Regions from separate parts of the Homo sapiens genome. Here regions 1, 2, 4 and 5 are each linked to region 3. Evidence: fine-mapped expression QTL. A gene starts in region 3. Each other region holds a variant in brackets. All regions are shown on one strand. Distances are from middle to middle.

What was found.
Region 1: its variant is fine-mapped to the expression of PAK1 in whole blood (INTERVAL, PIP above 0.99).
Region 2: its variant is fine-mapped to the expression of PAK1 in whole blood (TOPMed, PIP above 0.99). The same link has a PIP of 0.9 or more in monocytes.
Region 4: its variant is fine-mapped to the expression of PAK1 in monocytes (TOPMed, PIP 0.98).
Region 5: its variant is fine-mapped to the expression of PAK1 in cerebellar hemisphere (GTEx, PIP above 0.99). The same link has a PIP of 0.9 or more in cerebellum.

The regions. Positions count from the first base shown.
Region 1 is chr11:77,446,731-77,451,864 of GRCh38, reverse strand. The region is part of intron 1 of PAK1 (p21 (RAC1) activated kinase 1); the gene reads left to right. Among named protein-coding and RNA genes, the nearest start is that of PAK1, 25 kb to the left of the region's middle. RefSeq lists enhancers at 2,371-2,800, 2,380-3,150. The variant T/C (reference allele first, on the strand shown) is at 2,629.
Region 2 is chr11:77,406,421-77,411,554 of GRCh38, reverse strand. The region is part of intron 1 of PAK1 (p21 (RAC1) activated kinase 1); the gene reads left to right. Among named protein-coding and RNA genes, the nearest start is that of PAK1, 65 kb to the left of the region's middle. RefSeq lists an enhancer at 1-36. The variant T/C (reference allele first, on the strand shown) is at 3,176.
Region 3 is chr11:77,471,848-77,476,847 of GRCh38, reverse strand. It overlaps PAK1 (p21 (RAC1) activated kinase 1), which reads left to right and starts at 2,754. Exons shown (of 15, transcript NM_002576.5): 1 at 2,754-3,296. RefSeq lists silencers at 2,520-2,879, 3,110-3,159, 3,180-3,489 and an enhancer at 2,730-3,646.
Region 4 is chr11:77,499,579-77,504,712 of GRCh38, reverse strand. It overlaps a transcript of PAK1 not described here. Among named protein-coding and RNA genes, the nearest start is that of PAK1, 28 kb to the right of the region's middle. The variant A/C (reference allele first, on the strand shown) is at 2,315.
Region 5 is chr11:77,514,922-77,520,055 of GRCh38, reverse strand. It overlaps a transcript of PAK1 not described here. Among named protein-coding and RNA genes, the nearest start is that of PAK1, 43 kb to the right of the region's middle. The variant G/A (reference allele first, on the strand shown) is at 2,229.

The DNA of each region.
Region 1 (5,134 bases), 25 kb after region 3:
CACTTTGGGAGGCCGAGGCAGGCGGATCACCTGAGGTCAGGAGTTCGAGACAGCCTGACCAAAATGGTGAAACCCCGTCTCTACTAAAAATACAAAAAATTAGCCGGGCGTGGTGGTGGCGCCTGTAGTCCCAGCTACTCGGGAGGCTGAGGCAGGAGAATGGCATGAACCCAGGAGGCGGAGCTTGCAGTGAGCAGAAATCGTGCCACTGCACTCCAGCCTGGGCGACAGAGCAAGACGCCGTCTCAAAAAAAAAACAAAAAAAAACAAAAGACATTAACGAGAGAAAAGCAAGCAAATATATTTAATACAAGTTTTACATGACATAGGAGCCTTCATAAGGAAATGAGGATGCAAAGAAACAGGCAAACTTGTGTATTTTTATGTTTAGGTTTGATGGAAGAAGTGGGTAGTCTTGGAGAAATATGATTGGACAAAGGCGGTATGATGTAATGGTAATAGGATCAGGGTTGGAGGGAACTTAGCAAGGCTGGTTTGTTCAGATTTTTCTGTATGTCCCTGTGTCTTCAGAGAAAAATGAGGCTTTCCTCTGGGAATAAGGAGGGTACCTCTTGAATGAGGATCTGATTACCTGCTTCAGGGGAGAAGGGTGAGGGGAAGCTGAGAGTGAGAATACTTTCTTGCGTCTGCTGTTTTCTCATATGCTAAGATGTCATATTTTGGGGTAGCATGTCTTGAACCCCATTATAAAGAATCAAAGTGGTGGCTGGAACATAATAGGTAGTCAGTAAATGTTTGAGATATTCTCAGAAGACTTAGTTCTGTCTTCTCAAATGGTTTCCCTAAAGTCTTAAAATAAATACATCAGAACTTCTTGTTCTGTGGTTTTAAAGTGTTTTGTGGAGTTTGATTCCAGAGGCTATAGGTGGTGTAAGGTATGAGCTTTGCTGTTAGTCAGATTTCCATTCTAAACTCCTGTGGCACATAGGCAAGCTCTTCTGCCCAGAGAAGGGCCTCTAGAGATGGCAGGTTTTGTGGTAAATGGATTGAAAAAGAGGAGGAGGAAACTTGGTAACTGGGAAACTTGGGTCACTTCTGCAGGCAGTTGCAGCCCACTGAATAGCAGTATGTCAGGACCTTAGTGGTGAAACCATTTTTCATTGTGATCTCTGTCTCTGTTATTCTAAGTGTCTCAAAAACTGGAACCATGTCTAAGTCCTCTGCTGTTTCAACACCTGACCCACAGTAGATATGCCAATGTATTTTTTTGAAATAATATCTATCTAAAGTGGAGAACTTCTGTGGCCCATAGAGTTCCATAAATCCCTAATGGCTCCTAATTCTTCACCCCAGCTTCACCTTGCAGAGATATTTGTATTTAACAAGGATTTTCTAGTCTTTAATCATAAGGATTTGCAGGATTTCAGGTCTTGGGTTTTTTAGGCCTTGCTCTGCTGCCTACTTCCCTTTGCAAATATGGTCAGGCCAGACAGCTATTTCCTTCATCCCTAGTCATTGTGTGGGACCTGCCAGGTTCTTTCGGGTTTTTAATGCTGGGGTGGTATTTGTGGCTTTAATGCACAAGAGTTGGGGAGCATGAAACCCACATGATCAGGTAAACATCATTCTCTCAGTGGGTCCAGGGTTATGAGAAAACATAATGCTGGGATGTTCTTTCTTCCCAACTCTACCCCTAGAATTGATACTTTTATGTAAGCCATTAATTCAGTAAATACCTTCTGAGCATATATACTGTGGATCAGACATTCTGCTGGGTGCTTTAAATAATTATCTTTCCAAATACTCACAAGTTAATACTTTGAGTTAGACTGAGGGTATTGCCTTCAATTTCGCAGAAAAGGAGTCTGAAGTTTAGATGAAAGGAAATGACTTGCCTTAGCTAGTAAAGGGCAGACCCAGGATTTGAAACCAAGTCTTCATGACTAAAAGATAATCATTGATTGTCATGCTTGTCTATGCTTTCAGAATGGGAAGCTCCTTGAAGATGCATGTCTGATTGAATTTTTGCTCCCTGTTCTCAGCACAGGGGCTAAAACAGAATTTTTAAAAAATTGAATATGTAATACATTGGAAAGTCCTAGATAGAATAGGGGAATTGGGGTGAGGGTATTGAGAAACTGTTTCCTAGTCCACATTATTTCCCTGGAGAAGCTCCAGTCCTTAGGGTGATTTTTTTTTTTTTTTTTTTTTTACCTATAGGATTGAAAAGGAAAGCATTATTCATTCCAGCAACCCATAAGGAAAACTAACACAAACATTGTAATGCTTTAAAGATCTTCGTGTCTCATTGGGAAAATAACACCTCCTTCACTGTGTTATTTTGAGGAAAAGTGAGATGATAAAAGAGTCTGCCTGAACTCTAACGTTTTATGTTAAGTTGTTTTCATGCCTGGCTTTACCTGCCCTATCCCCTTTCTGGGCTTCAGTTTCTCTATGTGTACAGTGAGATGTTGAACTGAATGGTCTTGCTGCTCTTCCTTCCTTCATTAACATGAGAACAGATAGTTGATGCCTCTGATGTTCATGTTGTTCCCATTGCCCTTTTCTCTTTAAGCGCACTGCCTAGTTTCCTTTAAAGTCGTTGCCTTCTTTAGTTTTCTTTTTAAGCTGTTTCTGTGTGGGCTAGTGTTCCCTTTTGAGGTTGAA[T/C]TGAATTGTGTAAGGCCTCAGGAAGTGGTGGAAGCACCTTCCTCAAACCTGGTTGCACCAAAGGCCCATCAAGTCAAGTCTTGTCCCCAAAGAGGAAGAGAAAGCCTGGGGTTCTTAGCCCAGGCTAAGATTGAAGGAGTTTCTCTTTCGAGCTTTCTGGGTTAATTTCAAAACGTACAGGAGGGACATTTTCTTTTAAATTTCAAACACTCACCCTGTATATCATTAATATTCCTTAGCCATTTTTGTATAATATCATTTTTTAATTTCTATCCACCTTCTTAAATCTGTCCCTTGGGTCAGACAAAATGAATTCAACCTTTCCTCCACATGACAATTCTTTATAATCACAATAGTGATTTTATTACTGTTCTTCTCCAGCTAAATAGTTTCAAGAGTTTCTCAAATGACTACCTCTTTTTGCCTATTATACCACTTTGCTTTCCACAAAAAACTTCCCATGGGTAGTCCCTTCCTCATGCTAATCTTATTTCTGGTTCTGTATAACCTATCACTTCTTTGTAAGTTTTCACACTATTGCTGAAATAAGCCAAACATTCTTTCTCATGTTCCCTTAACTTGGGTCTCATAGCATTTTGTTTGTTTAACATGTTTTCCTTTGCTTGCTGTCCTTACACTCAACAACCTTCAAGACCAAGTTCAAATATCTGTCTCTGATGCCTTCTCTGACATTGTCCTCCTGTGCCAGGCAGAATTAGTATTTCTTCCTTCAGTGTTTATGTGTTACTCTGTTGTAATGGCTATGACATCATTTCTTATATTATATTTGTACTGTGTTATATTTTGTGTTGTACTGTATTGTAATTAATGTAATTTGTATATTCTACCTCTCCTTAAACACTTCTTCAAAACAACCCTTCCAAGGTTAGAAATACGTAGCAAATACCAGGTGGTCAATAAAAGAGGAAAGTACCACGCATTGAGTAACTTACTGCTGTGCAAGTTGCCTAATAAATATTCCCAATCCTCACAACAGGTCTCTGACATATTTTTCCATTTTTTCCCATATGAGTCTCCCATTTTACATATGAGGTAATTGAGGTCCAGAGAGATTAAATGATTAATTTCTGATCTCACAGCTGGTAACTCAGACAGAATTGGGATTCAAACCCAAGCTTGCTGATTCCAAAGCTTGAGTTGTGTTTGGAACTATTCTTCTGACTCCTAATTCAGTATTCTTTCTGTGCACATCAAAAACACACAAATTGAGTATGTAGATGTGTTTAATGCAGTGATGGACTAGAGTTCAAATGGGAGTGTGGTGGAATGAGGAGCAAATAGCTGTGGTACTCTCATAATTGTGTATTAAGAAATAGCCCTAGAGTTATTAATGCCTTAATTGCAACTGTAGGCAATTCTGTAATTTGGCATTTTAAAATGAATCTATTTTGGCTGGGCATGGTGGCTCACGCCTGTAATCCCAGCACTTTGGGAGGCTGAGGTGGGCGGATCACCTGAGATCAGGAGTTTGAGACCAGTCCGGCCAACATGATGAAACCCCCGTCTCTACTAAAAATACAAAAATTAGCTGGGCGTGGTGGTGGGCGCCTGTAATCCCAGCTACTTGGGAGGCTGAGGCAGGAGAATCGCTTGAACCCGGGAGGTGGAGGTTGCAGTGAGCTGAGATCGTGCCACTGCACTCCAGCCTGAGCGCGAGACTTCCCCTGAAAAAAAAAAAAAGAATCTGTTTCATCTTGTTAGCAGATATAACAACACCTACCTTTGGACATGTTCTGTTCTAAAAAGGGATGAAAAGCTGCTTCTCTCACACTACCACGGGCAAGATAGATGAGCTCAGCTTTGACTTGAAACAGTGTTAGTGCTTATGAAATCTTTCGCCTCCAAGTTTTGTCCTATTTTTGTTAGGTGCTGGTAACCTACCTTTCAGAGCTATAGAATCAGACAATGGGAATAATGGGATTCTTATCCCAACTATTTGAACAGGTTCTCACCAGGGAGAGCCCAAACACAAAGGACCTTTTTGGAGTTGGTAAAGAAGGCCAAAATGTAGACCCTGGGAAACACCTCTGCCTCCTTGTTTTGTGGCATGGGCTGCTGATTCATCCTATATTCTTTTAAGTTGGCTAATAGCGGATGTGTTATAGAAAGGTAACAAAAATAGGATCTAGCTCTTCTTATCTCTGTGTGGTTTTGGGTAAATGATTTATACTTCCTATGTCTTTATGTGTTTTAATCCAGTGATTCTTTCCAGGTGAAGGGATCCTGTTGTACAGGGACCACACATCTTTGCTGCTCAGGGACTATGCAAGGCTCTAGATTACAGCTTCTTTTGCTCTCCTTTTTTGTTTTTTTTTTTTCTTTTTGTCACAGCTCCCCTATTCACTATTATTCTAAACAGTTTTTGAAATCTCTTACCGTCTGATGTCCCCTCACCCATTCTCTTTATTGTTGAGGTTCATACCTCTTTTATAGCTTTACCATCATTTTAGAGTGATTTTGGGAGGGAACATAAGTAAATGTGTTT
Region 2 (5,134 bases), 65 kb after region 3:
GGAAGGGTGTGAAGGGGAAGCTGCGCCTTTGGGGAACCGCTCAGCCTCAGAAGCTCTGCTCCTTTGCAAGCGCCCTTCTGCTTGGTGGCCAACGTGGTGCTTTCCTCTGCCTTGGCTTAGTCGCTGGCCTGCTGGGACTGTGGGGGCTTTTCTGTGTTAAGAGGTTGAGTGAACTGGGAGGGAGGAGACCTGGGGGGACTGGTCCTATTCAGACATCCTCTGTGGCTTGAGTTGCCATATCTGTGCAGTGAAGGACTTGACATTGTTTGTTACTCTGGCTTTTCCAGACTGTCAAACCATCTTTTGGAGAGGTGAGCTGGTTTAAAGTGCTAAAATGGGCTGCAGAGATGTCCCCCTCAACACTGTAGAAGAGAGGAGAACTTGGGAAGTAGACCTTGGTATCCTGTCTTCCAGCCAGCCTTTTGAATGGCATCTTGGTGGTTCTTCAGGGACAAAGCAGAGACTGAGAATGCTGATGCTTATTTTAGTGTGATGCGTAGGTGTGTTAGGTGTAGGGAGGTAGGGTTGGGAAGTAGAAGGTCAAGGTATGTTAATGATTCTAAACTGGCCAGTTTTTCTGTCCTTAGGTATAAAGTTGCGTTAAACTAGACTCTCTTCTCTGGAGCCCCTTCCTTATTCTGCTAAGTTAATGACAGACCTGGCTGTGGTAATATCTTAATCACTATAATTCTTTCCTTCTTTATTACCTGGCACCAAGAAGCTCATGTCAGGCCCGATAATAACCTACTTTGATTATTTTGGACCTCTTTCCTCCCCCTAGTTTTTTCATGACTCTACGTCTTCCTCTCCTCACTTTTCTTTCTATTTCCTCCTCCTGATCATTTTTCCTGCCCCCTGCCTACCTTTTCTCCCGCCGTCCCCTTCACCCTTCCTCCTCCCCTCATGCTTCCCCTTTTGTATTTCTCCCCCTGTGTAGCCAGTCTTTCCTTCCCTCTCTTGGATCCTCCCCCTCTTGATTAGGCTTTCTTCTCTTTTCTAAAATTTTTGGTTAAGCTTTCTTATTATTAGTAGGTTACTGGTTTGTAGAGACCTTTTCCTGTGTTTATGAGGTCCAAACATTGTTTTCTACCTAACTCACTTGCATCTAGCTTTTACCTCCAAATTCTATCTTCCCCAGGACCATTCTCTCTCTTTACTGCCTCTGTGCCTTGCCTTGGGCCTGCCAACAAGCACTCCCTCTTCCTGCATTTGTTTCCCATCTTTGCTGGTGGTGGTGGGGCAGCAAGCAGGTAGGCAGTAGGGAATAAGCAAGATGGGAAGTGGGGGGCCTGAGTGGGAGGAGAGCAAGAATGTCAAGTAGTGCTGGGCAGAGGCTCAAGTTCCCTTTAGTGAGATGAGTGACTGGGAGGACCAGAAACTCTGGCAGCTGTGAGATAGTGCTGATCTGGAGGAAAGGAGGTAGCCCAGGAAAGAAGAGGGAGGATAGCAGGGATGGGTTGGAGGGACAGGAGGAGGAGGAGGCCTGGAGGAGAAGACAGTGCTCTTTTGAAGAAGAGGGTGGCCTGGACAAGATAGTGGTTATTTGTGTGTAGAAAGAGAAAGATTATAGTCTGGGAAAGGGGACTATATAGGTTAATTATCTTCCCCTTTGATGACTGGCTTTTTGAACTGATTTCTACTCAGCAAATTTTTTTTTAGTTAAAAATTTTGAAAGAATTTACCATGTTTATCATGTTTAAGTGTACAGTTCAGTTTCAGTAAGTACATTTATATCTTTTTTTCCCCCTTCATCCTCCTCACTCCCTTTCCTGGCCTTTGGTAACCACCAGTCTACTCTGTATCATCATGAGATCTACTTTTTTTACCTCCTACATATGAGTGAGAACATGTGATATTTGTCTTCCTGTACCTGGCTTTTTTTTTACCTGAAAAAATGGTATCCAGTGTCATCCATGTTGCTGCAAATGACAGGATTTTATTCTTTTTTATGGCTGAATAATATTCCGTTGTGTGTATATATACATATATACACAAATATATATTGTGTATATACACATTTTCATTTTGGCTATTATGAATAGTGCTACAGGATTCATGGGAGTGTGATATCTTTCATATATTGATTTGCTTTCTTTTAGATATATACTCAGTAATGGAATTGCTGAATCATGATAGTTCTATGTTTAGTTTCTGAGGAACCTCCATGCTATTCTCCATAGTGGCTCTACTAATTTACATTTTCACCAACAGCATATGAGGGTTCCTCTTTCTCCCCATCCTTGCCAGCATCTGTTATTGCCTGTCTTTTTCTTTTTCTTTTCTTGAGACAGGGTCTTGCTCTGTTGCCCAGGCTGGAGTGCAATGGTACGATCATGGCCTACTGCAGCTTCAACCTCCTAGGCTCAAGCAGTCTCCTACCTCAACCTCTGAAGTAGTTGGGACTGCAGGCACATGTCAGCATGCCTGGCTAATAAAAAAAAAATTTTTTTTTTTTAGAAGTGTGGTCTCCTTATGTTGCCCAGAGTGGTTGTGAACTCCTGGGCTCAAGTGATCTGCCTGCCTTGCCCTCCCAAAGTGTTGGGATTACAGGCATGAGCCATCGTGCCCAGCCTTTGCCTGTCTTTTTGATACAAGCCATTTTAACTGGAGTGAGATGATATCACATTATGGTTTTGATTTGTATTTCTCTGATGTTAGTGATGTTGAGCATTTTTTTCATGTACCTGTTGGTTATTTGTATCTCTTGTTACGAAAAATGTCCGTTCAGATCTTTGCCAGTTTTTAAATTGGATTACTTGTTTTTTTTGCTATTAAGTTGTTTGAGCGCCTTATATATTCTCGTTATTAATCCTTTGTCAGATGGATAGCTTACAAATATTTTCTCCCATTTTGTGGGTTGTCTCCACTTCGTTAATCAACGGAATTTTTGTGAGCACTGTCCTTAAAGTGGGGGAGTTAGAGGGAAAGCAGAGATGAGAACGACAAGATTACTGTTTTATTGGCACTCACTGTCAGAATGTGGAGTGTGTGTGTGTGTGTGTGTGTGTGTGTGTGTGTGTGTATTTCTCCATAGTGGCTCTACTAATTTACATTTTTGTCAACAACATGAGGGTTCCTCTTTCTCCCCATCCTTGCCAGCATCTATTATTGCCTGTCTTTTTCTTTTTCTTTTCTTGAGACAGGATCTTGCTGTTTTGCTCAGGCTAGAGTGCAA[T/C]GGTACGTACGATCGTGTGTATGTGTGTGTATGTATATATGTGTGTGTGTATATATGTATGTACAATATTCACAGAGCTTTGAATATTGCATCCATCCATTATCAAATATTTCTGAACCATCTACTCTATGCTAATTATGGTACTAGGTTGGTGGCGATACAAAAATTGAAACTGGCCTCAGTTGTTGCTCTCAAATGCAGATCAAGGAATGTGGACGCTCATGTGGTAAGTATTGTAGAAGGAAGCACAAGGGGCTGTGATAATGCAGAAGAGGGCACTTTTGATTTAGCAAGACAGTGGCAGAGCTAGGACCTAAACTTAAGTCTTCTCTGAAGGTGATATCTATTCTCTTATACCCTGTTATCTCCTGAGTTTGTGTATACATACAGTGTACAAAGAGTTTTCCTATATCCTCTTTTCTGCCTACTTTTGGGGCTAGACTCTAGGTACTGCTGACATGAAAAAAAGAACAATCCCATGTGGCAGGTCACTGTGCCATAGCCAAACAAACACTCATTACCTTGGAAGGGAAACAGACTTCGTCCCTGTTAACTTCTGGCTCGAGGCCACTTGGGTGACTATATGCTGAGCTCCCTCTCTGAGTCATTTGATCTCTTCCTTCCTTTCCTCCCTGTTCCATTTACTTAAATTCAATTTCTGGCGGGTTGCAGAGTCCAGAGACCAGATGCAGCTAGGCTAGGCATTTTCGCTTCCACTGGCCTCTATAGAATAGGGATTTAACACCTCATAGGGTTGGTGAGGATCAGATGAAATAATGAATGCGTGAAAATGCTTTGTAAAGTGCTATATAGATATCATTGTGGTTGTTCCCGAGTGCATTTTCAAGCCGTGAAAAATTGCTCAGATGCTATAGCCTGAAAGCCTAGGGTTGCCACTGACAGGCAAGAATAGGCACTCAGTATAGACACCAAGATTTACTAGACCCTTTCTCTGCCCTCGAAAAACTCACAGACTAATAGGAGAGGATTGAACCTCAATCCTCCGTGAGTAAAGGAAAAGGAGTGGGGTAGATAGGGCTTTAGGACTGGTAATTTAGTTCCATGGTCAAACAAAAACCACGAAGTATGTGCTTTATTTAAGGTCGAACAGATAGTAGGTGGCAATTATAAAAGATACTTTTAGTGACTTCTTATGATGTAACACAAAAAGGGGAAGGGGGACTTAAAAGTAGATTGACTTCAGTTCAAATCCTGGTTCTACCACTTACTGTTACCTGATTTTTAATCTTTTTAAGCTTCATGTATAAAAATGGAAGATATTCATACCTACTTTGAAGGGTTATTATAAAGCTTAAAAATAATCATATAAAAAAATAATAATAATTATATAGTAGGCACGTAATAGCTATACTTATTCTACAAGTCCCCTGACTCCTAGGCTGTTAAGGGCCCCTCTTCTGGATTCATGCAGCACCTATGTCTTTCCTCTCACCAATCAATAGTGCCAGTTACCATATTGTATTGTTATTGTGGTTAATGTATCTGCCTTTCCCATTAGTCTGTGAGATTTTTGAGGGCAGGGACAGGGTCTAGTAAATCTTGGTGTTGATACTGGGTGTCTACTCTTTTTTTTCCTTTGAAATCGTATCTCTGTCTGTTGCCCAGCCTGGAGTGTAGTGGAGCAATCTCAGCTCACTCACTGCAGTCTTGACCTTTTGGCTCAAGCAATCCTCCCACCTCAGCCTCTTGAGTAGCTGGGACTACCGGTGCCTGCCACCACACCTGGCTAGCTTTTGTATTTTTTGTAGAGACAGGGTTTCACCACATTGCCCAGGCAGATCTCAAACTCCTGAGCTCTAGTGATCCACCCACCTCAGCCTCCCCAAAGTGCTGGGATTACAGGCATGAGCCACTGCACCTGGCTTTGAGTGCTTACTCTTGCCAAGTCCTATTTAGTTGCTGAGTATACTTTGGTAAGCACAGCAGACTTACAAAAGC
Region 3 (5,000 bases):
CACGCCCAGCTAATTTTGTATTTTTAGTAGAGATGGGGTTTCACCATGTTGGCCAGGCTGCTCTTGAACTCCTGACCTCAGGTGATACACCCGCCTCGGCCTCCCAAAGTGCTGGGATTACAGATGTGAGCCACTGTGCCTGGCCAACAATACACATTTATTATTTCACAGTTCTGTAGTTCAGAAGTCCTAAATGGATGTCAGTGGGCTAAAATTAAGGTATCATCAGGATACCATCTCTTCCTTTCCAGAGGCTCCAAGGGAGGATCCATTTTCTTGCCTTTTCCATTTTCCAGTCTGCTCCCAAAAGCTGGAGAGTCCCTTTCCCCAAATCCTCAATTTACTCACATCTGCAGAGTCCTTTTGTCATGGAAGGTAACATATTCATAGTTCCCAGGGATTGGAATGTGAACATTCCATTGGATGAGCCATTATTCTGCCTAGTGCAGAGATCACGAAAAGACAATCCAGATTAGAGTCAATTTACTGGGTTAGGATCCTGGGTTAAGTTACTTAACCCCTCTGTGCCTCAGTTCCCGCATCAATAAGATGGGTGAGGATAACAACAGTATCTACCGTAGAGGGTAGAGGTTTAAAGACAGTGTTTGTAAAGTGCTCAGAACAGTACCTGGCACATAGAAAGAACAATAGGAACATTTATTAAATACATTTTTTTTGAGACAGAGTTTTGCTCTTGTCACCCAGGCTGGAGTGTGGTGGTGCAATCACAGCTTCCTACAACCACCGCCTCCTGGGTTTAAGCAATTCTCCTGCCTCAGCCTCCTGAGTAGCTGGGATTACAGGTGCCTGCCACTACGCCCGGCTAATTTTTGTATTTTAGTAGAGATGGGGTTTCGCCATATTGGCCAGGCTGGTCTCAAACTTCTGACCTCAGGTGATCTGGCTGCCTTGGCCTCCCAAGTGCTGGGATTACAGGCGTGAGCCACCGCGCCTGGCCTTATTAAATATATTTTAACAACATATTGATACTTAGGTATATGTCAAGCACTGTTTTAGGTGCTGAGGATATGGAAAGGAATATGACTTGGAACTCAAGAAATTAGATACACAAATGCAGTTACTTCCATAAAAGGCATAGAAATACTATAGAATTACAGTTTTGTTAAGGCTTAGGGAAACTTTAGAAATATTAGTCAAATGAATATGAATATGAATATGAATGACATTTGAGCTCAGCTTTGTACAATGAATAGGTGTTGGCCAGTCAGCTAAGTAGGGAAGAGCTTGAAGACATGAAGAAATGTGTATTCAAATAACGTTAATATTTCAGTGTGCTTGGAGCAAAAAATAAATGATGTGAGACAAAGCTAGAAAGGCTAGTGTAAGCAGTCAGGTAATAAAGTGCCAAGTTCAGGAGTTTGAACTTTATCCTGAAAGCAATAAAATCCTTTCGGTGTTTAAACGGGAGGACATCATCAGATTTGTGCTTTTATAAGGCTACTCAGGTAACTAGTGAGAAAAATAGATTGAGTTTGAAGAGACTAAAGGTTGCTCCAGTTGTTCAGGTGGTGGTAGTAGAAGACGACACAGGCAAGGACTTGAAAAATATTTAGGAGAAGCTACAAGACTTGGTGTCCAACTTGATATGGATGTTGAGAGAGGAAGAACGGGGAGCTATTAGTATGTCTAGGTTCCTGGCTTAGGGGATTGTTGAATGGGTGGCCCATTCATTGAGAACGGAAAGGAACGTAAGAAGCAATTTTGGGGGGGAAATAATAATAATAGCCAACATTCTAAAGGGCTTGTTACTATTACCATGGTAAAACTGAGGCTTAGGAAGACCTAGTTAAGGTACTACTTATTATTACAGAAAAATTACGGCTTAGAAATGTCAAGGTCCTATCACTAATATTTGAATAGCTAGGATTTCAAGCAAGGCAACCTGATTCCGGACTCTTAGCCTTTCTAATGCTGTCTCAGTTTCGCACATGTTGAATCTGAGGTACGAAGAGTATGCAGGTAATGCTGCTCGGGAGGTATTGGGAAATACACAATCTGAGCTCAGGAGAAAGAAAGCTTTGGGTCGAAAGTACCCTCCACGGTAGGGGAAAAAACGTGAAAGGAAGCCCATTCTTTTCGTATGTCAGTTCACATTAGTTCAAACATCTCCGTTATAATTTCTTTGTCTTCCTCCCACCCCTGCCCCCTCTCCCACAGAAAGAAAACATAATACATGTCTGGCTGTGAGATCACACGACATCGGATAGTTTTCAAATTCAGCCCTTGACAACGAGCTCATAGATGCGGTGGTGCTTTGTTAACCTGAAAAGGACCCTCAGCGCCGGAAGTTAGCCGTCTTTCTCCATCCTGACTACTACAGTAGCCCTCCCAGAAATCGTCCCAAAATTGTCTGATAGAAAGGCTGCACGGAAACAACCCGCCACGGACAGCGGACCGAGAACAGTGACGCGACGCGATGACGTCACGCAGCAAGCGGGTGATTCCCCAGCCTCTGGCGTCACGCGCCGATGACGTAATCCCAGGCGTTCGCCCTCATGCGGGCCAGGGTTTGGCCTCGCTCCCACGGGTCGGTCAGGCCCTCCCCGCCCCCTCTCACCTGCGGGAGGCGGGGCGGGCACGGCTCCACCGGAGCCGCAGCCGCCGCCGCCGCGCCGGGGAGGGGGAGTGGGGGAGGGGGAGGGGGAGAAGGGGAAAGGGCAGAGGGGAGGAGGAGGCGGGAGGAGGAGGAGTAGGGGAGCCAGTGAACTAGGCGGTCAGGCCTGCCGGGCGGCGTACAATAGCGCGGCTGTGGGCGGGGGAGGCTGCCCTCCCGCGGCTGCAGCCGGAGCCGAAGGTGGTGGCTGCACAGTAGACGCCCCCTCACGGCTTCCCCCACACGCTCCCGCCCCCTCGCTCGCCCATCGCGCTTCCCTCACAGGCTCTGCAGTCCTCCCCCACAGACGCCTTCCCCCTTGGACTCTCATTCCCTTTTCCACGGAGCCCCGCGCTTTCGTGAGCCCCCTCGAGGAACCTGGTCTCCGCATCCAGTTACCACCTCCTGCCTCAGAGGCCATCTGAGCCCTTCGCACCTCGCCCCTCAGTCCCCCCTTCCCCCCCCGCCCGCGTCGCCTCGCTCCCTCCCGCCCCCCCATCATCCCTTCCCTCGCAGTTCCCCTGTCCTGAGGGGAGCCCCGCCACGGGCAGCGCGGCGGCGGCGGCAGGAGGGAGAAAGTGAAGCGGTAGCTCGCGCACACTCGCGCCCTCACTCCCGGCTAGGCGGCACCCACCGCCGGGAGGAGGAGGAGGAGCCGAGAGGAGCTGAGCGAGCGCGGAAGGTGAGAGCGGGCCTACCGCCCAGTACCCCTCGCGTCCCGGGCTGCCAGGGCTGGGGCGCGGGGGTGGGGACGGGTGGAGTGGGGGTCTGGGCCCATTTATTTCGCGTTGCGGGGCCGGGCGCCTGGGCGGGAGGAGGCGCCAGGTAAGGTGAGGCGGGCGGCGCCCCGCGAGGCCCGCTCCCGTCGGGCCAACAAAGGCCCCCTGTGCGCGTACCGGCGGGGTCGCGGGTCTCAGACGCCGGGCGATTCGAGAGACCTGGGAGAGGGAAGGGGCGGGGCGGGGCCAGGCCAGGCTGGAGCCGGGAGGCCACACGAGTACCGGTCCGGGACCGAGTCCGTCCCGAACTTCGCAGTCCTGCGGCGCTCACCCTGTCCCGCTACGAGGAGGCACAGCAAAGCGGCGCCCAGTTCCTTCTGCATGGAATAAATGACCCCTTCCAGGCTTGGACAGTCACCTTTAGGGTTCTACTCCCTGAAAAATAAGGGCTGGTAGGACTTGACTTACGCAGCCCCTCCCCCACCCCGGAATATTCTGTAACTTGGGAAGTGAAAAACAACCGGGGAAGGAGATTTATAGTTATTTTATGTTCATTATTACGTTTGAAAAGACATGATTGTTGTAGCCTTCGCTATCCTATTTCAGCAGTACACATTACTGGGAGTGTTTTGGAAGAATACTTGAGAAGTAGTGGGTGTGGCGTTGTGAGCAACGTCCTTGGTTTTTAAACCCCTTGGATAATTGTTCTACTGTTACAAAAACTGTGAACAGTGAAGGGAAGGGTTAGTTCCGTGGTTACTAATAAAAATTCAGATTCATTAGTCTTGACTTTAAGAATTGTTCCTGAGAACAATCTTTAATTTTGCCTCCTACATTTTTGGGTTCTCTTTCAACTCTGTCAGGAGAAAGTAGGAATTATCAGTACAGATACCTCATCTCTCTTACCCTGTGGCTTCATCTACTTCTTGTGTGACCTTGAGCAGGTCACTTCCAGCCTTAAAAGCTCCAGAAGTTTGGTTTTATGCCCCAAAACGGGCAAGTAGCAAGCACCGGACTCAGCTTTCAAGAGTCCACTGAAGAATTCCCACACTGTGAAGTCTTTGCTGGCCTCCATCCTGTCTCTCCTCTTACAGACAGAGCTGATTTCTTCCCATTGGCCCGGTGGGATTTCTACCACAGCACTTACAACATTTTGGTTCCTATTTGGAAAATTCTAAGTCAGGTGCATATAAAAACTCCCCACCTCAACTAGAAACTATGCCTTTCAAAAAGGGTTTTGGGAACATTGACCCTGAAAACTTCCCATACTTTCCCTGAAGCTTATCCATACTCTTTAACTACATGAGCTCATGGGTCTACCTTGGTAAATTTGCTTATTCAGTCAATTCGTTTATCCAACATTACTGGAGTTCGGAGAGCTACTATGTTTCAGGCCTCTTGCTAAGGCTATGGGGATTCAGTCTATTAAGATATTCCCTGTCTTCAAAGAGCTCAAAGTCTAATGGGTGAGGTAGACAAGTAAACAATGAAGGTCTGCCCTAATCTCTGGGGGACTCCAGTTGTACAGGTAGTAGTGTGCAATAATTGAGGCTGCTGGACCTGTTTTACAAGTCTTCTCTTGGCCAAAGTGAGTCCTGCAGGGAAGGTGACCTGCCTCATCCATAACAGGGCATTTGGTAAAAAGCTTGTTCAGTTCAATTCAATAT
Region 4 (5,134 bases), 28 kb before region 3:
AGAACACAAGAGATCCCCAAAACCTCTTTCAGGTGTCCATAAAGTTAAACCCACTTTCATAATAATACTAAGGTATTATTTGTCTTTTTCAGTCTCATTCTCACACAAGTATATGCAGTATGAAAAGCTCATTGATATGATTTCAGATTCCACATTGCAACAACCTTTGAGAAACTCCCACTCGTCAAGTTTTAATGTGGTGTCAAAGAAGAATATTCAAACTTATCAGAAAAAAGCAATTAGAATACTCCTGCCTTTTCTAGCCACACATAAGATTTTTTTCATTATACTTCAACCCAAAGAACACACTGAAACAGATTGAATGTAGAAGCAAATATAAGAATCCAGCTGTGTTCCATTAATCTAGGTAGTAAAGAGATTACAAAAATATAAGGAATGCTACTCCTTTCACTATTTTTTTTTTTTTGCTTTAGAAAGTGTAGTTATTTTTCATGGAAATGTGCTATTTATATTAACAAACTAATAATTTATTAAGGTTGTTTTAAAATAAATTAATAGGGGCCGGGTGCAGTGGCTCACGCCTATAATCCCAGCACTTTGAAAGGCTGAGGCGGGCAGATCACTTGAGGTCAGGAGTTTGAGACCAGCCTGGCCAACATGGTAAAACCGCTGTCTCTATTAAAAATACAAAAATTAACTGAGTGTGGTGGTGGGTGACTATAATCCCCGCTACTTGGGAGGCTGAGGCAGGAGAATTTCTTGAACATGGGAGGCAGAGACTGCAATGAGTTGAGATCGCGCCACTGCACTCCAGCCTGGGCTGGAGAGAGAGGAGACTCCATCTCAAAACAAAAAAAAGATTCATAAATACTTTATTTTATTACTAATTAATTTATTTTTGAGACAAGGTCTTGCTCTGTTGCCTAGACTGGAGTTGAGTGGTGCGATCATGGCTCACTGCAACCTCGACTTTCTGGGCTCAAGTGTTCCTCCAGAGTAGCTGGGACCACAGGCATGTGCCACCACACCCAGAAAATTTTTAAACTTTTTTTATAGAGGTGGAATCTCATTTTGTTGGCCAGGTTGGTCTTGAACTCCAGGGCTTAAGCAATCCTCCCATCTTGGCCTCCCAAAGTGTTGGAATTACAGGCATGAGCTACCATGCCTGACCTAATACTTTATAACTTCCAATTTCAATTTCTAATATGGCTAATATTGATAGAGATAACCCACATAAACAACATTCTTTGGGGTTCTCAATAATTTTTAAAAGTGTAAAAAGGTCCTGAGACCAAACAGTTTGAGAACTGCTGTCTTGCCTTGCACTTGAACCGCCACCAACCCATCCAGGGCAATTGGCCTCAGCATATGCTTTAATGCTGCATAGGATGGGGAGGCCACCACCTCCTGGAGCAGCTGGTTTTATCTTTGCACTACTCTGTTTGCTAAGAAGTTCTGGCAGTGAGTCAAAGATCTGTCTCTCGGAGGCTCCCACTGATTGGCCTTAGACCCACTCCTTGGTTTTACACATTGCAGTTTGGAACCCTCTTCCAGGTCTGGAAGATAGTCATCGATTGCCCTTTGTGGTGGCCCCAGAGGGAATCAGCCCTTCCTTCTGGTGACTAAAGTACAGATGCATTTTTCAGAGTCAGCCAGTGATTTGCAGGAGGCATTGCCAAGCCAGATAACTCACAGCTGCTTTCCCAGGAACCCGAAGATCATCTCCAACCTCACATCAAATTTGAGAAATTCATGTTGTTATTGTTTTCCTCCATAAGTTAATTTTTTTCCATTATAAATCACACGTGCTTATTAAGGAAAATAAAGAAAAGTAAAAAGAAAAGAGGCTTGAAAAGAAAATTTGGTCACAATTAGCCCTGACTTTCTTGTCTTGGCATCTCTCCTTTTTGGGCTTGCCCTGAATGCCATTCTTTTCATACAGTCCTTACAAGCAGATATGTGCACCATGCCAGCTTGCGAGGTCTGTGGGGTTGACAGAGTGCCCACTGCTTGGTGGAGTGGGACAGCTGCTGGCGAGTTCATAGCTCCTTGAGGGCAGCTGAGGCAGGGCACTCAGAGGGAACAGGAAGCTCCTGCGAAGAAGCCTGATGCTTCTGCCATCTGAAGACACTTCAGGGCAGGTCTCTTCCAGCTATGTGGGGTTAGAGAAGACTGACACTACTACAGTGGTGTCTGGTAAATTTCTTTCTGCATTTTTGCAGGGAGGGGTAAAATAAGAAGTTCCTCTGGGAATTCTACTTCTGAGAATCTATCCTAAGGAAATGATGAAAGATTTAGACACATTATGTGTCTATCATTATTCATAAAACTTGGAAATAAAACTAAATGTTTT[A/C]ACAATAAACGTTTAGTTTTAAAACTGTGTGATTGTATATTCTGTGCTGGTTGAAAATAATAGACATTTATGAAGTCTTTAATGACATGGGAAAATTTCCAACATAGTATGTTAGTTGCTCTTGTATATGGCTGACATATATGTAGTTCCTGGATAAATATTTGTTGATCAAAAACTGAAAAATTAAGAAAACTTTAAAAAGAAAAAAACACATACACATGCACATACACGCACACAAAAGCAGGATACAAAACTGTATTTACAGTATAGTCTCAATTATATAAATATTTTTGTGACAAGTTGGGAATAAAAAGGTCATCTTAATCTTTGGCGCCAATATATGTCATAAGGAGAAAACTATCTTGGTGAAAACATTTAAATGCCCAGCAGGCACAGGTGTCAGCAGATTCCCAGCTCAGAGAAGGGGAAGCTGCTTTGCATGAAGCAAAGAGGAATTTGGTTTATTGCTTCTGAAAAGGAAGCAGAAGGAGGAAGATATTGGTCAGGGTGCTCACAATTGCAAATGACAAAAATTTAACTCTATCTAGCTAGACCAAAGAAAACCCAGGTATCCAGTTAGAAACGTTTGGATTCAGGGACTGGAGCTTTCCCATCCATATTTGAGCTCTCTCTTCATGTCTTGACTCTTGTTTTTCTTTATCTTGATTCATTCTCAAGCAGGCCTTCACATGGGGTGGCAAAGACACCAGGAGCAATACTGATCTTCCTATCAGAGACCCTGGGGGCAAGAGTCTTTCACTCACCAAACATTCCCACAAGCCTGTCCCTGAGCATCAGTGTGACCAGAGAGGTGGGATGCACTGACTGGTCACTTGTATGGATCACTGGAACAGGGTGGGATCAGCCCTGCTCAAGCCATTTGAGAGAAGGGGTAAGGGTGGTTCCCCAAGGGAAAGCTGTTGCTTATTACCCGAGAAGAGGGGTCGAATTCAGTGAATGCTCAGCAGGCACAGAGAAAAGATGCCACCACAGGGAGTAGAGAGAAGAGAGAAGGATGAAGAAGAGAGGAGTCAGTGGAGAGACTGAGTCCGGGTGGAGTGAAGGGCCGGGGAAGCTCCCCTCTGGCAGATAGTGGTCCTTCCATTTTGAATTGTTTGCTTTGCTATGGATGTGAAACTCTCCTGGATTTCCCCTTCATCCTCCACATTGCCAGCAAATTCTACTAACTTCAAAACTGCTCTATGGGAGTGGGTTGTTTTTTGTTTTTTGTTTTTTGTTTTTTTTTTTGAGACGGAGTCTCGCTCTGTCACCCAGGCTGGAGTGCAGTGGTGGGATCTTAGCTCACTGCAACCTCCGCCTCCTGGGTTCAAGCGATTCTCCTGCCTCAGCCTTCCAAGTAGCTGGGACTACAGGCGCCTGCCACCACGCCCGGCTAATTACCCGGGATTGGGTTTTTGGTGGAAATTGGAGGGACTAAGTTTTGAATGTGGATCTGCACACTGCAGAACAGAGGACCATGTGGGGAGCCAGGAGCCCAGAGGCTAGCTGGCTGTGGTAAGAGAAGTCTGTTGGGAAAGAACTGAATTTTTTTTTTGAAACAGTGTCTCACTCTGTCTCCTAGACTGGAGTGCAGTGGTGTGAACACAGCACATTGCTGCCTCAACCTCCCAAGCTCAAGCAATCCTCCTGCCTCAGCCTCCTGAATAGCTGGGACCACAGGCATGCATCATCACACCCAGCTAATTTTTTTGTGTGTGTGGAGACAAGTCTCAGTGTGTTGCCCAGGCTGATCCTGAACTCTGGGGCTCAAATGATCCTCCTGCCTCGGCTTCCCAAAGTGCTGAGATTACAGGTGTGAGCCACTGAACCCAGCCAGAACGGAAATCTTGAGGAGGGCTTTGGATTTCCACAAGACGTGGAATTGGAGGGAGGAATCCAGTTAATTATGTTTCGACTTTTTTTTCTTTTTTTGAGGTGGAGTCTCACTCTGTTGCCCAGGCTGGGGTGCAGTGGCACAATCTCGGCTCACTGCAACCTTCGCTGCCTGGGTTCCAGCAATTCTCCTGCCTCAGCCTCCTGAGTAGCTGGGACTGCAGGCATGCACCACCATGCCTGGCTAATTTTTGTATTTTTAGTAGAGACGGGATTTCACCATGTTAACCAGGCTGGTCTCGAACTCCTGACCTTGTGATCCGCCCACCTCGGCCTCCCAAAGTGCTGGGATTACAGGCGTGAGCCACCGCACCCGGTTTATATTTTGATCTTTAAGGGCAGGAGGGCTCTCAGTTGAATCTGAGTTATGTATATTCATCTTTGCTATACAAATTCTGTGTTTGTGAATTTTCATTTTTATGAACTGATTATAACAAAATTTTCCAAGGGAGCAAACTTCTTCCACTCACTTATGGTCAGGGCTTGCTTATCTCAGATGCGTGTGTTCAGAGGTCTTCCAGCCACTTTCAGAGCCAGGTGTAGAAGCAGAGATGGAAGTGTTCGCTGATGCTGGATGGTGGATTTATCAGGTGAGTGCTAGAGAAGGTCAAAAGGGTGAGACATTTAGCCAGGCTGTATCCATTCTGTTCTGTAGAAGCCAAAATGCCGGAAAGTCTACTGCTCTGTGTGTGTATGTGTGTGTGTGTGTGCAGTGTCAGCACAAACCAACTCAGTGCTTAGGGAGCAATATGGATCCAGGGCCCACATCAACTCTAAATTAACATTCCCTGACTGTTGGGACAGACAGGCATGTAAACAACTAATTAAGACAAAAAGTGTAATAAAGGTATAACGAAAGTATCACTGGAATACTTAAGAGGCAGTACCTACTTCCTCTAAAGTTGAGAAGGGCAGAGTGGGCATGAA
Region 5 (5,134 bases), 43 kb before region 3:
ATGCCCACATGTGCACTGGGGGAATGGGGTGGAGCCACGGGCGGAGGGGGGGGCCACAGGCCAGGGGAGGAGCCTGGCTTCCAATTCCTGTGTGGTGGCCTGGGATTCAGTCCCTGAGGTGAGAGGCCTGTTAGCAGGACTCCATCTTGCTTTGTTGAGTCTTTTTTCTTTTTCTCCCTTTTTGCCCAATGAAATCCTGCTCTATTTACCCTTCAGTGTGTCCATGTGTCTAAATTTTCCTGGCTTGTGTCTAGAACCTGGTATTAGCTGAACTAAGGAGCAAAATTCTGCAACAGTATTATCCTGCCTTCCCAATGCAATCTACATTTCCAGGTGACCAACTAGACCTAACTGATAAGGAAAAGTTCTTTACAGACGAATCCCAGCTAAAAAATGTGGTAGGAATGATAGAATTAGGAAAAAAAAACCAGCATTTTGCAAAGATCAATAAGGGATGAAAGAATTAGATTAAAAGCTTCTGGAGAACTTTACAATAGAGAGATCCGGCTGACACCCCTGGAACCACTGATCAGTGTTAACTACACTCAGAGTGGGACAGCCAGACAGTATGTACCTCTTGAGATGCCCCCTTTATGGGGAGAAAAAAGAAAAGGAACCCAAATCTAATAAGGCCTTTGGGACTAATTTTCTAGTTTACATGAAATACAGGGGATACAGACTCAAGTTTAAGTGACACTACTTATAAATAAATGGATAAATCCAGAATGTGGGATATTTTATAGAACTATTGAACTAGTTTAATCAACAAATCAATAGCATGAAAAAAAGGGTGGGGTAGAGCTGGGAGATACTGTTGTAGATTTTAAGACTCAAAAGACATAACCTTCAAATGCAATGTAACGACCTTGTTCAGATTCTGATTCTAATGAACTAACCATAAAAAATACATGTATTTAAACATCAGGAAAGTATAAAAATTATCTAAGAATTCGATGATACCAAAGAGGTGTTACTTTTGTTAGGTGTGTTGGTAGCAGTGTGGTTATGTAGAAAATATTTGTGTATGCAGTATCAAGGGAGAGATAACATGAGGTCTGAGACTTGCTTTGAAATACTCAAATAGAAAAAGGAGAGGGATACATGAAGCAAATATGGCACAATTCTAATAATTGTTGAATCTAAGTGATGGGCATTTAAACAATACGATTCTAATTTTGTTTATTTTAAACTGTTTGTATTAAAAAAGTTAGTGTGGAGACAGGCAAAATAGAATCTTCTGGATGACAATTCAGCCTGGTCCATGTATATCAATGGAACAAAATAAATGGGAAAAGTTACTGCAAATCAGACTAACTTGCTCATCTTTAGCTGTCAGCTGCCACGATGCCACAAAAGCACATCTGGTGTCAGTGATGACACTTCAGATGATGAGATCCAGGGTGGAAGGAAGGGCTGCTGGTGGGTGTAATGATTTTCTCTCTCACACATCTCATTTTTGTTAACACCTGAGGTGGCACCTCAGCAAATCCAAGCAGAGTGCCGAGTGGTTTGCAATCTTCTTTTGCATAAAAAACATACTAATTACACTCTCTTTGCTGATTCACTGGGGAATAATTTTTAGCCCTGTAAGTAGATACAACTTTTGTTTTTAAGATGAAGAATTACAAAAACCAGAGATGGCAAACACAGCCAACTGTGTGACCACTCTCCTCTCTAGAACCTGGGGCAAGTAGACTTCGTTAATTGATCACAGCTTTCTTTCCCATTAGATTTGACTTCTCACCATGCTTCTCCAGGTGACCCCATATTCATAATATCTATTTGTCCTTCCTTCATAAAAAGTATTCAAATTAATTTATAGATTAAATAACTTGCTAAGCCATTTTTTTCATTTCACAGCAGAACAAACAAGAAGAAAAATACCTTGAATACCAAGGAATTTAGACTAGATTGAATTTAAGAATAACTTTATGTGGAGATTATTGAAATCTGGAATAATTACTTAGAAAGATTAAGGTGTTTTTCTTAAAAGCCCTGTTAAAAGTGGGCAGAGTTTTATTGTCTGGAATAATCTAGAGAGGCCACACAGCAGGAGGTGAGTGGCAGGCGAGCGAAGCTTCATCTGTATTTATAGCCCCTCCCCATTGCTCTCATTACTGCCTGAACTCTGCCTCCTCTCAGATGGCATTAGGTTCTTTTAGGAGCGTGAACCCTATTGTGAAGTGGGCAAGGAAGGGATCTAGGTTGTGTGCTCCTTATGAGAATCT[G/A]ATGCCTGATGATCTGTCACTGTCTCTCATCACCCTCAGATAGGACTGTCTAGTTGCAAGAAAACAAGCTCAGGGCTCCCACTGATTATGCATTATGGTGAGTTGTATAATTATTTCATTACATATTACAATGTAATAATAATAGAAATAAAGCACACAATAAATATAATGCACTTGTACATTATATTTCAGGTTTCATCCTGAAACCATCCCTCCCCACATACACACACTGGTCTGTGGAAACATCGTCTTCCATGAAACCGGTCCCTGGTGCCAAAAAGGTTGGGGACTGCTGACCTAGGACCAATGGGCTTGACAACCATTCTTTGGCATATGTCAAGCCATCTGGCATTTTTGCCTGCTCAGCATCCCTTTCCCTTCATCCCTATAATAGAATGTTATTTCCTTTGGGGAAATCTGTGTGTTTGCATAGGGCTGCCCCTTCCTTTTTACACAGTGGGGCAGACCTAGCTAATCAGATTACATCATTTCTTTGACCACAGAAGTTAATAGTAGGATGGGTGCATGACTCAAACTGGGCACATTAAAATTCTCTCCTGGCCAGATATTTTGGAAGAGTCTCTTTTTCCACTGAGTGCTAAAGTGGCTGGCTCTGAGGCTTGGGTTGCTGGTGGCTATAATGCCCTATGTGTGGAGAGAGCCAACAAAACAGAAATGCTAGAGACAATTCCTTAAATTATTTGAGCCCTGGGTTCTAATTATGCCTGAAGGAAGATTCATCCCTGGGTTATTTAAATATGAGCAGCAATAAATTGCCTTATTTTTTCTTTAGTTAGTTTATTTATTTTTATTTTATTTTTTGAGACAGGGTCTCACTCTGTCACCAACTCTAGACTGCGGTGACATGATCATGACTCACTGCAGCCTTGAACTCCTGAGCTCCAGCAATCCTCCCGTCTCAGCCTCCCAATTAACTGGGACTACAGGAATGTGCTACCGCATCCAGCTTTTTTTTTTTTTTTTTTTTTGAGAGATGGGGTCTCACTATGTTGCCCAGGCTGGTCTTGAATTCCTGAGCTCAGCTGATCCCCTCACCTCAGCCTCTCAAGGGCTAAGGTTACAGGCATGAACCACCATGCCTAGACTTTGTAGTTAGTTTAAATTGGTTAGTTTAAATTAGGGAAAGTCTTGACTAGCATGGCATGTGAGATGCTTCATTTATTCAATTAACATTTATTAATCTGCTCTAGTCACTTGACCACCCTGGAGATACAGAAACAAAAGAGTCCTTATCTCACAGTTCACAGTTAAAGAGACAGTTATAATACAGTAATTATATAATACCTGACACATTACTGCTTAATATGTTCTAAGTACTATTCTAAACATTTTACATATACTAACTTATTTAACTCTGATAACAACCCTTTGAGATAGGTTGTGTTACTTTTTCTATTTTAGAGAAGGAAAATGAAGCACAGAGAGCTTTAAAAAGTTGTCCAAGTTTACTCAGTTCAGAAGTAGAAGATCTGGAATTCAAACCCAGGTAGCCTGGCTTTTAGTCACGACATTGTATAGCTTCATTACACCTAAGGTTCAATGCTGGAGTTATACTGAAAAATAATCAATAATAATGGCTACCATACATTGAATGCACACTGTGTGTCCAGTCCTAAACTAGGTGAATTTCTGCCTTAACACATTAAGTCTTTTCAAGAATTTAATGCAGCAAAGATTATTCTTTGTGTAGTTGAGGAAACTGAGGCTTAGAGAGGTTAAGTGACTTGACCAAATTGCACAGCTAAAAACAAATGGCACAGACTGAATTTGGATCCAGTCATGTCTGCCTCTAAAGCCCTTCTTCTTTCCATCATATTACCTTGGAGGGCCTTACATTCCAACTTTTCCACTAGACGTGCAGCATTTCTAGGATGCTTATGATTGGCTGCCAGCAACCGAGAAATGAAGTCAACTTGGAGAATTTTCTAACATCAGAAAGTATGGCATATTTTGCTTGCAGCAGTGCTCTTGGAATTGGTGTATACCTTGCAACCTGATACTCCTGAACATATATTTGCTGTAGTTGAGGAGAGAGTAAGACACTTGTTGTAAACATCCCCTTTGGGAGTAAAAAAAGGATGTTATTTATTTATTTTTATGGCAGTCATTCAAATGTTGAAGGAGGAGACACTACTTTTGTGCTGCTTCCTGCCTTCAGGCCAGACCTGCAAATAAGGCCTTTGGATAAGGAATGAGTCAGGTATCCTGGGGACAAAGTGCACATTTCATAAGAAATCCGAGAATGAGAAGGTAGTATTTCGGTGGGAAGGTTTTCTATGATCCATAGAAGGCATTGTTGTCTAATAAAACCATCCCGTAACACAGGAGAAGCTGGTAATGTTCCTCCATGTAACCAAATCATGCACGGGGTTTACTGATGCTCCACATTCCTTCAGGGAAAACATATCAGCTAAGATACACCTGTATGCTTCCTCATCCAAACATTTATTAAGTGCTTACAAATCTCTTTATCTAGATTAACTCATTAAAGCCACATAACACCGCCATGACACAAATGAGAAAAATGAGGCATAAAGGACTTGACTCAGCAGCAATTGAATTATCTGCTTACCAGGAGTCAGTGACGTTTGCTAACCAGTTTTTGCCAGGCACACATGGTGTAATTAAATTAAATGTACAATGGAAACCTATGAAATATGAGTGTAAAAAGAAGTTGAGCTATTATTCCTATGAAAGCTAAGTTGGATGTTTTGGAAAGACTTTTCTCTAAAAAAATTATTGCTATTCAATTAGGTAATGTCATGCTCTTTTCCTCCTCTTTGCCTGTTGCTGCTAATTAGAAGGACTTTTCTCATATTTTCCTCCTTCAAATGTATCCTCCAGGATCCAGCTCAACTATGATCTTTTTTGAGAAACCTCGGATG